Regions from separate parts of the Homo sapiens genome. Here region 2 is linked to region 1. Evidence: fine-mapped QTL for protein levels in blood plasma. A gene starts in region 1. The other region holds a variant in brackets. All regions are shown on one strand. Distances are from middle to middle. Region 1 holds the start of DDHD2 (DDHD domain containing 2). Region 2 overlaps DDHD2 (DDHD domain containing 2).

What was found. A credible set is the group of variants that fine-mapping cannot tell apart. PIP is the chance, under the fine-mapping model, that this variant and not a neighbour inherited with it causes the effect. Protein levels are from antibody-based Olink assays in UK Biobank. Linkage for the fine-mapping came from a reference panel and not from the study's own genotypes, which makes the PIPs less certain.
Region 2: its variant is the best candidate, but not a certain one, in a credible set for the plasma level of the DDHD2 protein (UK Biobank, PIP 0.74).

The regions. Positions count from the first base shown.
Region 1 is chr8:38,228,234-38,236,570 of GRCh38, forward strand. It overlaps DDHD2 (DDHD domain containing 2), which reads left to right and starts at 3,352. Exons shown (of 18, transcript NM_015214.3): 1 at 3,352-3,626; 2 at 4,754-4,981; 3 at 6,161-6,351. The coding sequence starts at 4,762. RefSeq lists silencers at 2,705-2,754, 3,325-3,994 and an enhancer at 3,654-4,153.
Region 2 is chr8:38,257,554-38,265,883 of GRCh38, forward strand. It overlaps DDHD2 (DDHD domain containing 2), which reads left to right. Exons shown (of 18, transcript NM_015214.3): 17 at 2,487-2,594; 18 at 3,047-5,283. The coding sequence ends at 2,568. It overlaps PLPP5 (phospholipid phosphatase 5), which reads right to left. Exons shown (of 7, transcript NM_001102559.2): 7 at 5,577-7,051. The coding sequence ends at 6,891. Among named protein-coding and RNA genes, the nearest start is that of PLPP5, 7.5 kb to the right of the region's middle. The variant CTTGT/C (reference allele first, on the strand shown) is at 3,481.

The DNA.
Region 1 (8,337 bases):
TTAAGACAGAGTCTCGCTCTGTCGCCCAGGCTGCAGTGCAGTGGCAAGATCTCAGCCACTGCAAGCTCCGCCTCCCGGGTTCACACCATTCTCCTGCCTCAGCCTCTTGAGTAGCTGGGACTACAGGAGCCCACCACCAAGCCTGGCTAATTTTTTGTATTTTTAGCAGAAACAGGGTTTCACCGTGTTAGCCAGGATGGTCTCGATCTCCTGACTTCGTGATCCACCCGCCTCAGCCTCCCAAAGTTTTTACAGGCATGAGCCACCGCGCCCGGCCATGGGTTTTTATTTTTAAGGGGCACAGTAAGATATTCTATTTGTCTGAAACTACCTATGTATGCAGACTTTTGGGGAACCTAAAATTTATACTGTGTGGATCCCAAATACTTGCATCCAGATCATGTGTGGTAACTATTTAAAATGCAGATTCCTGCTGGGCACTTTAGGAGGCCGAAGTGGGAGGATCACTTGAGCCTAGAGTTCAAGACCAGACTGGGCAATGTAGTGAGACCCTGTCTCTAAGAAAAATTTAAAAATTAACCAGATATAGTGATTACGGCTCACTGCAACCTCCCCTTCCTGGGCTCAAGCCATTCTCCCGCCTCAGCCATCTGAGTAGTTGGGACTATAGGTCTGTGCCACCATGCTCAGCTAATTTTTTTTTTTTTTTTTAGAGGTGGGTTTCGTCATGTTGCTCAGGATGGTCTCAAACTTCTGGACTCATGCAATCCGCCAGCCTCAGCCTCCCAAAGTGCTTGATTACAGCATGAGTCACTGTGGCCCATAAAACCATTTTGTTGCATACCAAAAGTAAGATGGTGGTGTCTTGAAGAAAAAGAACTTGAGTGACTATTTGAATTGGAAGCTGAACTAGATGCTCTTTTTTCATGCAACATCATTTTTATTTGAAAGTATAAGGGACAAACTATGGCTATTTGTATGTAAGTATTTAGCAGAAATTTATTTGAAAACAAAGGAGACTTGTCACTTCAAGGAAGACAATTTATCATTTGTTGCCAATGATAAAATTTGACCTTTTAAGAAAAAAGCAGAATATTGGAAAACTTGTACCTGCTACTCTGAGCTTGACAGCTTCCCAATATTAAAGACTTTTCTGATGAGATCGGTAATTTTTAAAAAATTGTATAATAAAATATATTAACATTTGGAAGATCTACATAGCTCAGTGAACTGATACTTTCCCAAATGAACAATACATGTCTTAAGTCACACATGGGTAAGAGATCCATTCAAAGTGCAAGATAGGCTGCTTTGCCTATGGAGTAGCCATTCTTTTATTCCTTTACTTTCTTAATAAACTTGCTTTCACTTTACTCAAAACAACAAAAATAAAACAAAGTGCAAGACAGAAAAATGGATTTTAATAGTATCAGAATATGTGAAGTTTACTGATATATTTTCAAACTGCACATTGCAATCCACTTTTTTTTTGAGACAGCCCTCCAAATTTGAGAACAGCTGGTATGGAGGCTACAACAGGATTTGAAGATAGAAAACCTAAATTCAAGTTCCAGTTCTGTCACTTACCTGACTGATTTTAGACAAGTTACTTAGGTGCAGGCTCTGAAGTCACACTGTGTGGGTTCGTGATTTTAGCTCCACCCCTTGCTAAATCGGCCTGCCTGGGCCTCCCAAAGTGCTGAGATTAACAGGCGTGAGCCGCTGTGCCCGGCCTTGCAGAAGCTATTCTAAGTGTAATAAATTTGAAGGGAAGGTGTTAACTTGGGGATATTTGTGTGTGGCTGTTAATTTGCAAAGAGAATAAATGTGTTATAAAAAATTGTTTTCTTTTTCTGTTTGTGAAGAAATAACAAAACTGAAATAGGCCGGGCAAGGTGGCTCACGCCTGTAATCCCAGCACTTTGGGAGGCCGAGGCGGGTGGATCACGAGGTCAAGAGATCGAGACCATCCTGGCCAACATGGTGAAACCCCGTCTCTAGTAAAAATACAAAAATTAGCTGGGCGCGGTGGCGCATGCCTATAATCCCAGCTATTCCGGAGGCTGAGGCAGGAGAATCGCTTGAATCTGGGAGGCGGAGGTTGCAGTGAGCCGAGATCGTGCTACTGCACTCCAGCCGGGTGACATAGTGAGACTCCGTCTCAAAAACAAAAAACAAAAAACAAAAACACAAAAACTGAAAAAAAATGCCCTATAATCTAGTTAGAATATAGGAAAATATCTTTTTAAATACCAAAAGGTATTAAAATGAAATACTAAGGAGAGTCGGGCAGGGCCTGTACTCGACCTCATGACTGCGGGAAATTTCTCTTTTTTTCTTTTTTTGAGATGGAGTCTCCCTCTGTTGCCCAGGCTGGAGTGCAGTGGCTGCGATCTTGGCTCACTGCAACCTCCGCCTCCCGGGTTCAAGTGATCCTCCCACCTCAGCCTCCCAAGCAGCTGGAATTACAGGCGCGAGCCACCACCCCCGGCTAATTTTTATATTTTTAGTAGAGATGCCGTTTCACCATGTTGGCCAGGCTGGTCTTGAACTCCTGGCCTCCCAAAGTGTTGGGATTACAAGCGTGAGCCACTGCGTCCAGCCCCTTTCAACTTTTCACCTCAGTTATGTCTTCCTGTTTGGACAGCAGTATCTCATCTCCAACCTCCCTGGCATCTTTTAAATCCTGTTAAGGTTGCCTCTACAAAACAAAACAAAAAAAAATTATTAATTTTATTGTTTGTTTAGAGACTAGTGTCGCAGTGTTACCCAGGCTGGAGTGCACTGGCGCCATCTGGGCTCATGCAGCTGGCACCAATGGGCTGGGGCGCTCCTTCAGCCTCAGCCTCCTGAGTAGCTCAGACCCAGGCGCTGACACCACGCCCGACACCTCTACATTTTTTAGGGATACCTTTTTGGTAACCTCTAAATCATAATAAATGCACGGAGGACGGGCCAAAGCCTTTTTGCCTGGCAAATGCTAGTGACACCCGTTCTCAGCACCCAGAAGCAGAGGCCAGGAGCGGGGCGGCTGTGGCTGCGCCCTCCGCCCTACTCCGCTAATCCCGGGGCCGCGCAGTCCCTGCGTCCGGTGATCACCGCGCTGCTCCTGGCGCACTAGTAGGGTCTGTAGCGTATCCCGAGGATCATTCCGACTTTCCCGCCCCGTACGTGAGGGGCCGCCTTGAAGCCTCTTCCGCCACGGACACTCGAAACTGATCTTGAAGCCCCTGCCGTCACGGATACTAGAAACTGATCTCGAAGCCCCTTCCGCCACGGACACTCGAAACTCTCCCCCACTGTTAGACCTCAGCAGCCAGCAGCCCGCCGCCCGGCGCTGCAGCTCCCTGCCCGCAGGAGCCACGTCTCGCGCGACTCCCCCCACCTCTCGCGACACTTGCCGCCCGTGCCCTGCGGCCCTGCACGCCCCACCCGCGGTCGCGCGCCGCGCTCCCCGCCGCCTCACCTTTTCGCCTGGCATCCGGGCCCGCTACTCGCCCACTGGGAGCGCCGTGGCGCCTGGTGTTCGGCGCGAGCCCGGCGGGGCTGCAGGTTCCGCCCTGCTCCGCCGCGCCCCGCCCGGGCTGGGGTAAAGGCCGCGGCCGGGCCATGCAGTGTCCTCCTCAGGGAGGGCAGGAGAGCCTGAGGAGTGGCGGGGCCGCCAGGTGAGACCGCGTCGGGCGGGCGGCTGGACCGAGGGAGGCCAGGCTGGGTGCAGGTGGGCGGCGCAGCGCTGCGGGGCCGGGATGCGGGGCGGGGGAACCTCGGCTCCCGGGAAGCCCCGAGCCTGGGGGAACCCTGGGCACCCTGTGAACCCTGTGGTCTGCACTGGCTGCCCTGCTGCTGTCGCGGGGCTGCGGGCGGACGACCTGAGCCCGAGCTCCGAGGGCCCGGAGCGGGGCGCCAGGGCCTAGGGTCGCGGGGGCCAGGGGCGCGCCAGGGTGGCTGAGGTAAGTCTGTGTGGGGAAAAGGACAATGGAGCCGAAAGCCGGCGTCTGCCGTCCCGCCGGGCCCGCGCGAGATGCCCTCCTGCCCCCCGCCCTACGAGGCAGCTTAGAAGTGTCCTTCTGGTGCCTGCGGCGCTGATCGTTGCCGAGTGGAAGGAGTGTTGGAGAGGTAGAAACAGCTGGTCAGAGCCGCCTCTGCGGGAGGAGGCTTTTGAGGTCGCTTGTTAGCTTTCATCTGAGATTCTGGCTATGGGAGTGGGCGTGCGTGTGCGCACCGTGGCCCCAGGCGAGGTTTCGTCTTTTCCCAATTTGTACCACCACCCATTAAGCGACTTCAAGGATCCATCAAAAATGATTGGTTCCTAAGCGAACAGTTTTATTTTTTGTATTTTAAGATTCCATTAGTTGTGTAATGGTAGGGGCCTGGAGCCCAAAACCTTGGCGTTACTAGGACAGGGCATGACCCAGCTGACTTGGAGTAAATTTTCTGCCTTTAACTACATTTAGATTGGAAATTAGGGTAAAATGTTTTTGTTGCAATCTAGTTTCGAGCATGTGGTCCTGTGATTCTGGGTTTGTTTTATAACTTATGGACTGAGTAAAATTACCCAGTTTACTGAGAGAATTGAGAACTCTGTGCAATGGTTGATCTAATAGAAGCATTTTATTTAAAGCTTCCACCCATCCAGTTGCTAATTTATGTTATTTCTCTTTTAAATTATGTAGATTTTGTTGTTGTTGTTGTTGCAGAAATGGCTCCGTAAAATGATTAGTTTTGTGCGTGTGTGTGTGCGAACAGTTACACAGTTAAGTTCGTTTTCCTGATAGTTTTCTTTTGTCTTTAGAGAGCGAAATGTCATCAGTGCAGTCACAACAGGAGCAGTTGTCCCAGTCAGATCCATCTCCGTCACCAAACTCATGTAGTTCCTTTGAGCTAATAGACATGGATGCTGGCAGCTTGTATGAACCAGTTTCTCCCCATTGGTTTTATTGTAAGATAATAGATTCTAAGGAGACATGGATTCCTTTCAACTCTGAGGATTCACAGCAGCTGGAAGAGGCATATAGCTCTGGTAGGTGAAAATTATGACTTGGAATAGACAAAGACTCTCCCCTCTTCAAACTATAATATAATGGTCCTTATAGTGAGTGCTATGAAAACCAAATTTTAGATTTTTCCAGTTACATAATTTCTTACAGCATTTTATATAGAACTTCTGCACTAATACCTAGCCAATCAATAATATTCAAGAATTTGGTCTGTATTTTGAAAACAGTATCTATTATTATTTCTGCATAGTTACCCAATAATTTTTTTTTCCTTAGAGTTGGGGGCCTAATTATATTGTCTAGGCTGGTCTTGAACTCCTAGGTTCAAGCAATCTTTCTGACTGGGCCTCCCAAAGTGCTGGGATTACAGGCGTGTTACACCCTGTGCCCAGCCCCCCAGTAATATCTTTAATGTTCTAGCTTATGTTTTACTTTGTTTTATAAAGAATGTGTAAGGCTGGGCACAGTGGCTCACACCTGTAATCCCAGCACTTTGGGAGGCCAAGGCGAGCAGATCACTTGAGGTCAGAGTTTGAGATTAGCCTGGCCAGCAATGGTGAAACCCCTTCTCTACTAAAAATACAAAAATTAGCTGGGCGGCGGGGTTTGTGCCTGTAGTCTCAGCTACCTGGGAGGCTGAGGCAGGAGAATTGCTCAAACCCGGGAGGCGGAGGTTACAGTGAGCCAAGATTGTGCCACTGGACTCCAGCCTGGGTGATAGAGTGAGACTTGTCTCAAAAAAAAAAAAAGAAAAGAAAAGAAAAAAGTATGTATAGAGTGGGGTGCAGAAGAATGAACTCTCTAACTTGTCACTTGTCTTTTCTTCTTTTATAAAACAAGAATGATTCTATTTATACTGAATCATCATGATGGTTATTAATTTACCTTATGGTTCCTCAAGCAAATTCAGAAAAATCACATTATATAATTTTTTTAAGGGGCACTGCTATCTTTCCCCAGAAAAAGAACAAAACTGGGTAGTATTTTTTTCATATTTCATTAAAATCAGGAATGGTTTTGACGGTTTGTAAAGTAGGTAGTGAAAAAGATATGAATTAAATTCCATTTTGTTTGGTGTTTAGTCAAGTAGGAACTTTTCATTCATGTGTTTCATAACATTATTTAGAGTATAACTGAGAATTGTATGTTGGGAGATTTATTTTGAAATATGTACTTCTTTTCCCCTTTTCAATCCTTGAAAGGAAAAGGTTGTAATGGGAGAGTTGTTCCTACTGATGGGGGCAGATATGATGTTCATTTGGGGGAGAGGATGCGGTATGCTGTATACTGGGATGAACTGGCATCGGAAGTGAGACGATGTACGTGGTTTTACAAGGGGGACAAAGACAATAAGTATGTTCCCTACTCGGAGAGCTTCAGCCAAGTTTTAGAGGTATTCTTTTGACTCTTTTTTTACTTATTCTTTCTTTCTCTTATTTAATAATCTTTTCTTTCCTTTGTAATTTATTTTGTGAAATTTCCAGAAAGACTTTGGTTCTGTCTGCATCACATTATAAAACATAATAAAGCATTTCTATTTACAAGCAAGTTTCAGGATAAAGTAGTCTTATTTTCAGATTTTTTTTTTTTTTTTGAGACGGAGTCTCGCTCTGTTGCCCAGGCTGGAGTGCAGTGGTGCGATCTTGGCTCACTGCAACCTCCACCTCCCCGGTTCAAGTGATTCTCATGCCTCAGCCTCCCAAGTAGCTGGGATTACAGGTGGCCGCCACCACACCTGGCTAATTTTTTTTAAGGGGCACTGCTATCTTTCCTCAGAAAAAGAACAAAACTGTTTGGGTAGTATTTTTTTTCATGTTTCATTAAAATCAGGAATGGTTTGACGGTTTGTAAAGTAGGTAGTGAAAAAGATATGAATTAGATTCCATTTTGTTTGGTGTTTAGCCAAGTAGGAACTGTTCATTCATGTGTTTCATAACATTATTTAGAATATAACTCAGAATTGTATGTTGGGAGATTTATTTTGAAATATGTACTTCTTTTCCCCTTTTCAATCCTTGAAAGGAAAATATTGTAATGGGAGAGTTGTTCCTACTGATTTTTATTAGAGATGGGGTTTCACCATGTTGGCTAGGCTTGTCTCGAACTCCTGACCTCAAATGATCTGCTGGCCTCGGCCTCCCAAAGTGCTGGGATTACAGGTGTGAGCTACTGTGCTTGGCCTTTTTCAGATTTTAAAATACGATGGAAATGGTTGTGGTGTTTTAAGGTGTAAAAAAAGAAAAAAATACTCCGGGCCTGGTGGCTCACGCCTGTAATCCCAGCAGTTTGGGGGGCTGAGGTGGGCGGATCACCTGAGGTTGGGAGTTTGAGACCAGCCTGACCAACATGGAGAAACCTCGTCTCTACTAAAAATACAAAATTAGCTGGGCACGGTGGTGCACGCCTGTAATCCCAGCTACTTGGGAGGCTGAGGCAAGAGAATTGCTTGAACCCGGGAGGTGGAGGTTGTGGTGAGTGGAGATCGCACCATTGAACTACAGCCTGGGCAACGAGCAAAACTCCATCTCAAAAAAAAAAAAAAAAACTGGTGGGCACAGTGGCTCTCACCTGTAATCCCAGCACATTGTGAGGCCAAGGCAGGAGGATGACTTGAGCCCAGGAATTTGAGAACAGCCTGGGCAACAAAGCAAGACCCCACCACTACAAAAAAAAGTACACGCGCACACACACACACACACACACACACACAAATACAAATGCAAACTGTATTATGCTATGGTCACAGGATTGATCTTTTTTAGCTTTTATTTTTCTTGCTCTGAAAACTGAAATTTTTCTTTAAATTGGAGTAGAGCGTTAGTATTTTTTGTTGTTGTTGAAACAAGAGTGTCGTTCTGTTTCCCAGGCTGGAGTGCAGTGGCACGATCTTGGCTCATTGCAAGCTCTGCCTCCTGGGTTCTTGCCATTCTCCTGTCTCAGCCTCCCAAGTAGCTGGGACTACAGGCGCCCGCCACCACGCCCAGCTAATTTTTTGTATTTTTAGTAGAGACGGGGTTTCACCGTGTTAGCCAGGATGGTCTCAAGCTCCTGACCTCGTGATCCGCCCGCCTCGGCCTCCCAAAGTGCTGGGATTACAGGCGTGAGCCACCACGCCCAGCCTTTTTCTTGTTTTTGGTTTTTTTTTTTTGCTTTTTTTGTTTTTGTTTTTGTTTTTGTTTTTGAGACAGAGTCTCACTCTGTTGCCCAGGCTGGAGTCCAGTGGTGCGATCTCGGCTCACTGCAACCTCTGCATCCTGGGTTCAAGCACTTTTCCTGCCTCACCCTCCTAAGTAGCTGGGATTACAAGCGTGCCTCACCACACTGGCTAATTTTTTTTTTTTGAGACGGAGTTCCACTCTTGTTTCCCAGGCTGTAGTGT
Region 2 (8,330 bases), 29 kb after region 1:
TTTTATTTTTATGTAATCAAATGTGTTGTCATTTGCTTTTTGGTTTCTGGAATTTGTGTCATACTCAGAAAGATCTTCCTTACTTTCCAAAAAAATTCTTACCACAGTATTTTTTTTTTTTTTTTTTTTGAGATGGAATCTCACCCTGTTGCCCAGGCCAGAGTGCAATGGTGTGATCTCGGCTCACTGCAACCTCTGCCTGCCAGGTTCAAGTGATTCTCCTGCCTCAGCCTCCCAAGTAGCCAGCATTACAGGTGTGCACCACCATACCTGGCTAATTTTGTCTTTTTAGTAGAGACAGGGTTTCACCATGTTGGTCAGGCTGGTCTCAAACTCCTGACCTCAAGTGATCCCACCTCAGCCTCCCAAAGTGCTGGGATTACAGGCGTGAGCCACTGCACCCAGCCAACACAGTATATTGTTATATATATAATTTTTTTTAGAAACAGGATCTTGCATGCAGTGGCTTCTCACAGGCATGATCTTAGTGCACTAGACCCTTGAATTCCTGGGCTCAAGCAATCCTCTTGCCTTGGCCTCCTGAGTAGTTGGGACTGCAGGTGTGCAACACCATGCCTGGCTATTCTAATATTTTATATCTAATTTTTACATATAAATCTTTGATTCAGATTCAGGTCCTTTTTTCCCCACGTCTCAACACTATTAATAGATTTGAGATTCTAAATTAAATTAATTAAATTCTTTTTTTTTTTTTTGAGACAGAGTCTTGCTGTGTTGCCCAGGCTGAAGTGCAGTAGTGCAGTAGTTGGCTCACTGCAACCTACGCCATCTGGGTTCAAATGATTTTCCTGCCTCAGCTTCTTGAGTAGCCGGGACTATAGGCATGTGCCACCATGCCCAGCTAATTTTTGTATTTTTAGTAGAGATGGGGTTTCACTATGTTGGCCAGGCTGGTCTCGAACGCCTGACCTCAGGTGATCTGCCTGCCTCGACCTCCCAGTGTTAGGATTATAGGTGTGAGCCACCGTGCCTGGCCACTTAATTAAATTCCTATACATAAATGGGACTATTTCTCAACTTCTTACTTGTTGATTTGCTTATTTATGTACCATTTTAATATCTGATAGAGCTAATTCCCACTTGTTGATACAGGAATTTCTTAAGCTGGGGTCTGTGTATATGAGTTTGTGGGAGATGAGGGAAGTCTGTGAATCCAATGAAATACACATTTATAATTGTGGTTGCAATGTGATCCTTTCTGGGGAAGAATCCGTAATTTCATTAGATTCTCAAAAGGATGCATGACTCAATAAATGTTGAACCACAGATCTAGAAGAATAATAGAGGCTTATATCCTTAAGGCAGTCCCTCATGAGTGTTAATCTTTTTAAATCAAATTTTGTTATGAAGTGTGGATATAAGTAATTGCTTGTGCATACGTAGAATAATATCTGGAAAACGCATGAGAAATTGATAACATTGGTTGTCAGAAGATGGGAACTGGTGGTGGTTGAGGAACAAAGGTGGGAGGGAGACTTCGTTACTTTCTTATATTGTTGGAATTTGGAACCTTATGATTGTATTACCTTTTCCAAAAAGTGCATAATATTTTAAAAATTAAGGTGACCAACTGGATAACTCTTCAATAGTGTCTCTAGAATGATCTCTGTGGAAAAGGAACAATTCTTGGTTATTTCTTACTGGCTTTTTTTTTTTTTGAAATGGAGTCTCACTCTGTCGCCCAGGCTGAAGTGCAGTGACACTCTGCAACCTTCGGCTCACTGCAACCTTTGCCTCCTCGGTTCAAGCGATTCTCCTGCCTCAGCCTCCTGAGTAGCTGGGACTACAGTCGCATGCTGCCACGCCTGGCTAGTTTTTTTTTTTTTTTTTTAGACGGAGTCTCGCCTATCTGCCAGGCTGGAGTGCAGTGGTGCAATCTCGGCTCACTGCAACCTCCGCTTCCTGGGTTCAAGCAATTCTTCTGCCTCAGTCTCCCCAGTAACTGGGACTACAGGCGCATACCACCACACCCTGCTAATTTTTGTATTTTTAGTAGAGATGGGGTTTCACCATATTGGCCAGGCTGGTCTCAAACTCCTGACCTTGTGATCCACCCACCTTGGCCTCCCAAAGTGCTGGGACTACAGGCGTGAGCCACCGTGCCCAGCCCTAGTTTTTGTATTTTTAGTGGAGATGGGGTTTCACCATGTTGGCCAGGCTGGCTCAAATTCCAGACCTGTAGTGACTTGTCCACCTCAGCCTCCCAGAGTGTTAGGATTACAGGCATGAGCCACCGCACCTGGCCTCTCTTCCTAGCTTTTTTATATTACTAGACTTAATGCCAGAGTTCTTTGCCAGGTCACCTTCCAAACCACTGCCAATTACATTACTTCTGAATCTCATTTCTTTGCAGAAGTAAAAAATAAACTTGCAAGATGGTTGTATGGATTAAATGAGATAATATATGTAAAACATTTGGCACAAGTGTTAGTTCCTTTTCTCAACATAATTTTTTCTCTTTATAGGGAGTCTGAAGATACAGTATTGCTCGTCCTCAAAGAGATCTACCAAACCCAGGGTATCTTCCTTGATCAGCCTTTACAGTAAAAATGACCCATCTATGGCTGCTTAATGTAAGTTTTAAAATGTCATATATATAGTGTAATTCTTACATATTAACATGTTATAATGAACTATGGAGCCTCAAGCTCTTTTTAAATATACTAGCTGTTGCCTGTCACCAAGATCTAGGCTGCTATTCATTTTTAGAGGGACTGGTAGAAATTCATGGGGAAAAAAACACAGTAGCCCATTTAGAGGAAGATTAGTGTATGTCTGTTTTGCTAGAGATTTTGTCCAATGACACCTGTCATTTTTTAGGATCTAAACTCAGAGTTTTAATGGTTCTGTTATCTAAGAGTTACTGTGGCAACAGTTATGATTTTAATTACCAACCACCCATCCTGAGATTTAAATTACTCAGCCTTTTAGATGTGAAATTACAAAGTCTGTGTATTCGACTCTGGCATTCTCTGTGGTTGCCTTCCAGTTGTGACTGCAGCTCTTCTCCCACTTTCTTCCCTAGACGGACATTGAGGGATCCTTCCCCAGAAAATCCACCTGTTTGTTGCTGCAATTTTCCTCTCCTCAGCTGCGTCATTTCCTGCATGTTGCCTGCCACTTACTCACCACTGGGGTCTTTGGAAGATAATCTTCCTCTTTGGAAATGAATGGAAAAGCAAAAGGCCCTATTACTTTTAACCACTGGCTTCATATAAACACTTGCCATTTTTTTCTGCATAGCTGGGGGTGGTTTGTGTCTTTAATTCTTTGATGATAGTTTATAGTTGCCACACTTTATTGATTAGTACTTGACAGGGTGTAAAGCCTATTTTGGGTTTGATTTGTTTTGGGTGGGGTAGACATGTTTTTAAGGAACTTATTGCTTATCTTTAGAAAATGTTCTAGTTTGGAAACAGATTCTTGAGATTCAGAAGGCATTTTGGAGTACACTTATCT[CTTGT/C]TTGTGTTGAACTGAAGGCTAAGTCTCAGTGGACATGGAAAAGACTTTTGGGTGATTTATTTTTGAACCTGCATTTCTTTCTTATGTGTAGTGTATGAAGAAAGACTAGAATGTAGCTTTAAAAAAGTGTTGTTTACTCTCTTAGAACTGACAGACTTATTGCCAGAAATCACTGATGTTCATTGTTTTTGCAACTGTTTGAGCTGCTGTAAGAGTCTAAAGTTGACAAGTTAGTTCATGTTAGGTGCATCTTTATAAAGCAAAGATGTTGTATATCCTAGGCCTCCCTTTTATATTTGATAGAAGTTATTTGCTAATAGCTTCTATTCTTACGTTGAAAATAGTTGTAAAAGCTGATGAACCTGAAATTGTGTAGCCTCTACAGGCTGCTGAGGTTCTAAATAAAACCTTTTAGTGGTGCCTTTATGGTGAAACAGAATTTGTCACCTGCCATTTCTACTTGAGCTAAGGTAGTATTGTGTATCCTCTTTCCTTCTTAGGTATCCATAATCCACAAAGCATATTTAAAAGGCTCTTGGCACGGGCAGCATTGGTTGAGCAGGTAGGTTTGGCTAGGGGGAAATGTTTAACTTGTTCTGAAAGAAAAACTTATGTCTGTAGGGTCCAAGAAACAGCTATTCCAGAGTCAGTGTCAGCTGAGTCTGGAACATATGAAGTGAGGTTTACTTCTAAGAACACAAGTGACTGCACACTAATTTTGTCAAGGCATCTTTTCACTACTTTGCTGTAGATTTTTCTTCTTCATTGGTCAGTTTGTCATTGTCTTTGTAGTTCTCTTTATGATAATCCTTTATACTTGCTCTCAGATTCCACAGGCCTCTGTTTATAGAGTGGCAAAGGCAGGCGAGCTGTGGTTTATTGTTTATAAATTTTTTTATAAATGTTATGGTATTCAAAGCCACTGACATTTAATATTTACTGAAGCCATTCCTTAGACAGCAGTGGTCTTTATCCCTTTCTGGAAAGAAAAGGAAAATGAAGGGTAATTACTGTCACCATGGAGATTGTAGAGGTAAGGTTGGGGTATAGGTCAGGCCTGGCCTTTCTTTGTCATCTGCTTATAGTCTAGTGCTAAGTATGCCACTAAGTTTCAGATATATGGAATACTTTATTTTTTTAAAGGTATATAAACTCTGAGTTATTGAGAATTAAGTATTCACTGTATATTAAGGGGAAGCTTTTGCCAAGTTGTGGTCTTCAAATTTATGTTTACTCTTCCTATTGGCAGAATAGGTGCTATTTAAGAGTAAACCAAAGGATAAGCAGAGGGAGTCCCTATAACCAAAGATGGACAGCATAGCCCTGGATAGCCAGATAAACCACTCTTTGTATTAAGAAATGTTTCTTTCCTAGTGGTGAGGGGTGGGTAACTGTGAAAGAGCTTTATATCTTGTCTATTCATGGTATTATAGCTGTATATTCCCAGGATGATAAGCTTGATTGAAATCCTGTATTTAGTCATATATTATTTGCGCTGCTTCATTTGTATCATGTGCAATCTCTAGACCAACCCTATTTTTAAACTCTGGTACAGCATCATTTTGTACATATTCCCAGCTGCAGAACTAGTATCACTTATCTCAGCAAAAGAGATTGTTTGCATGGAAAGATTAATAGCACTGATTAGATTTCTAATATTTTGCATTTTTGAAATGTTTGTTTTCTACGTGATTATATTTAAAACTTTAGTAAATACTAACATGAAACCATATTGACTAGTGGCCTACTTTTACCTGGACTCACCCGTCTCAAAGTCAAGAAAATCAGTACAGTCACGATTTTCTCTGTCTTTATGTATTACTAAAACAAAAAAATAGGTTTTGGGCAAAGAACTAATATGTAAGTTCTTTCCTGTTGACTGGTATTTTAATTGTCATAGGCAGAATTTAAGTTCAGAATTTAAAGCATGGCAATTATAAGAGACTTTCCTTTGGTATTTATAAATATTAGCCAGTACTATAGATAACAGCAGTTGAATCACTTAGGGCGGATGGGGAATTCAATGTTTTGCTTTACTAAAGTTCCAGCCCCTTAATGTACTTTAAATATTTAAAAAAGCACACATTTACCATTTTATTTGAATATCAGGTTTACTGAAGGAAAAAGATACATTGAAAATATAGGAACATACACATAAAAGACAATGTCATATTTAAAGTATAATCACAATAAAGAGAAAGGGAGCTGTAGGTCCTATGGCATCCATTCTGATGACATCCCATAATTGTTCCTTATATTCCATTGTGAAGAAGGGGCAGAAAAAGATTCATCTGTCCTTCAGATGACGATACCTGTCATTTTTCTTTTCTACCTTAGTCACTTGGCAGTGTTGGTGCATTTGAGCAGATCTTCAGTCATGAATGGAAGGAAAGAAGCTCACAAGTACAGTTATGGTCAAATGAGGTAGAAACAGTCATCTGTTAGTAGTGCTGAAACCACACTCCTGACCATTTTCTTCTTTATTATTGTTTTCACTTAGTAATTCAACAAATTGTTTATGCCCACGGTGTTCAAAATGCACAGCAGTACCAGATGGCTGGACTCAGATAAGATGCACACAAAAGTGATAAATTACCCTAGATTCGACATTTTCCTATTTAAGGCTTGATGGAATTGTCATCAGAGAAGGTAAACAGAATCAAAGTAATTTAGTTGGCCATGCCCTAGATTTTAAGATTTTGAGCTATATGAAATGGAAATTAAGTTTTGATAATGAACTCTAGCTTCTGAGACAAGGTGGGGCTATGTAAAGGCTTCTTTGTGACAAGATCCTTCTAAGAATGGCATTTAAATTAAATGTAAAAACACTGTAGATCTTCAGATATTAATCTGATAGACCAGATTCATAAGGTGTTGGACACCTTTGAAAGATCCTTTTACTAGAACATGTGGCATACAGTAGTGGAAAAGAACCGTAACTCCTCAAGATAGATGAGCAGGGGCAAAAGTGTGTAATCATTTGGAGGCAGAATACAGTGTGGCTTATGTCCTCACTTGCACCTTGGAAGGGGAAAAAAAGGCTAGAATTTCTTGTCTTGTGCATGGTCCGGTTAGGAGGGCTAGTTCACCTGTTCTCTATTGAGATAGATTCAATTTTTTTTTTTTTTGAGATGGGGTCTCACTCTGTTGCCTAGGCTGGAGTGCAGTGGTGCGATCTCGGCTCACTGGAACCTCCAGCTCCCAGGTTCAAGCAATTCTCCTACCTCAGCCTCCCAGGTAGCTGGGATTACGGCACACAACTCCTGGCTAATTTTTGTATTTTTAGTAGAGACAGGGTTCACCATGTTGGCCAGGCTGGTCCTGACCTCAGGTGATCCACCCTCCTCAGCCTCCCAAAGTGTTGGGATTACAGGCATGAGCCACCACGCCCGGCCAGATTCAATTTTTAAATATCAAAACAATAAGAATCCCCAGGCTTCTGTGCAGTGGAAAGTACAAGTTTGTCTTGAAATGGTTTATGGCATTCTGCATCAGTCAGAGGAGGATAATACTGCCGATAGCAGACATAGGCAAATGTCATTCCAATCATGGATCCAACTAGTACATCTGAAGAGAGTGGAAACAAGGTCTTCTCTTAATATTAGGCTCCTAAATCCTATTACATACACATAGCATAGAGGACCTGGCCCTCCAGGATACTCTACTGTGGGGCTAAAATAACCTCAATTCCAGACTTATGATTTCTAAATAAAATCTTTTTATTCTCAATTTTATCATAGTTACAGTATTATCATTGTCAGGTTGCTTTCTGAACACCAAATCAAAACACATCTTAAGTAAGTATAATAAGCTTTGTTCAGAGTGTACTAAATTAGAATTTTTCTAACTCAGAAGAGTAACAAAGGTCCACTTATTGCTATTCATCTGCCCATTTTCACCATTTAAAGGGTCCTAGAGGAAGGAATAAAGTATTTTAAGAGTTGCTTCTCGCCGGGCACGGTGACTCACGCCTGTAATCCCAGCACTTTGGGAGGACCAGGCAGATGGATCCCGAGGTCAGGAGATTGAGACCAGCCTGACCAACAAGTGAAACCCTGTCTCTACTAAAAATACAAAAATTAGCCGGGCGTGGTGGCATGTGCCTGTAATCCCAGATACTCAGGAGGCTGAGGCAGGAGACTTGCTTGAACCCAGGAGGTGGAGGTTGCAGTGAGCCGAGATGGTGCCACTGCACTCCAGCCTGGGCGCAGAGCTAGACTCTGTCTCAAAAAAAAAAAAAAAAAAAAGAGTTGCTTCTCTTTGCAAAAAACTAGTTTATTTAAAAATTTAAAATAGGGTTCCTGAGGACCTGTGGGCAATACCTCCAGCGTTTTTTTTGGAATTGTGTCAGGTTCAAGCCATTCTCCTGCCTCAGCCTCCCAAGTAGCTGGGATTAAAGGCGTGTGCCACCATGCCCAGCTGATTTTGTATTTTTAGTAGAGATAGCGTTTCACTGTTGGTCAGGCTGGTCTTCAACTCCTGACCTCAGGTGATCCACCTACCTCACCTTCCCAAAGTGCTGTGATTACAGGCATGAGCCACTGCACCTGGCCTCAATTTTTGTATTTTTAGTAGAGACGGGGTTTCAATATGTTGGCCAGGCTGGTCTCGAATTCCTGACTACAGGTGATCCGCCTGCCTCAGCCTCCCAAAGTGCTGAGGTGTGAGCCACCGCGCCAAGCCAGGTGTTCTGTAATTTGGATATTTTACTTACTATAGCATTCAGCTTAAATTTGTTTGGTTTAATTATAATTTTATGTTTTCTTGAATTTTACTTATGTTTTTGAACAAAAGTCCTATGACAATGAACCTGATTTTTAAGAGAGTAAATTGAACTTTGAGGTTT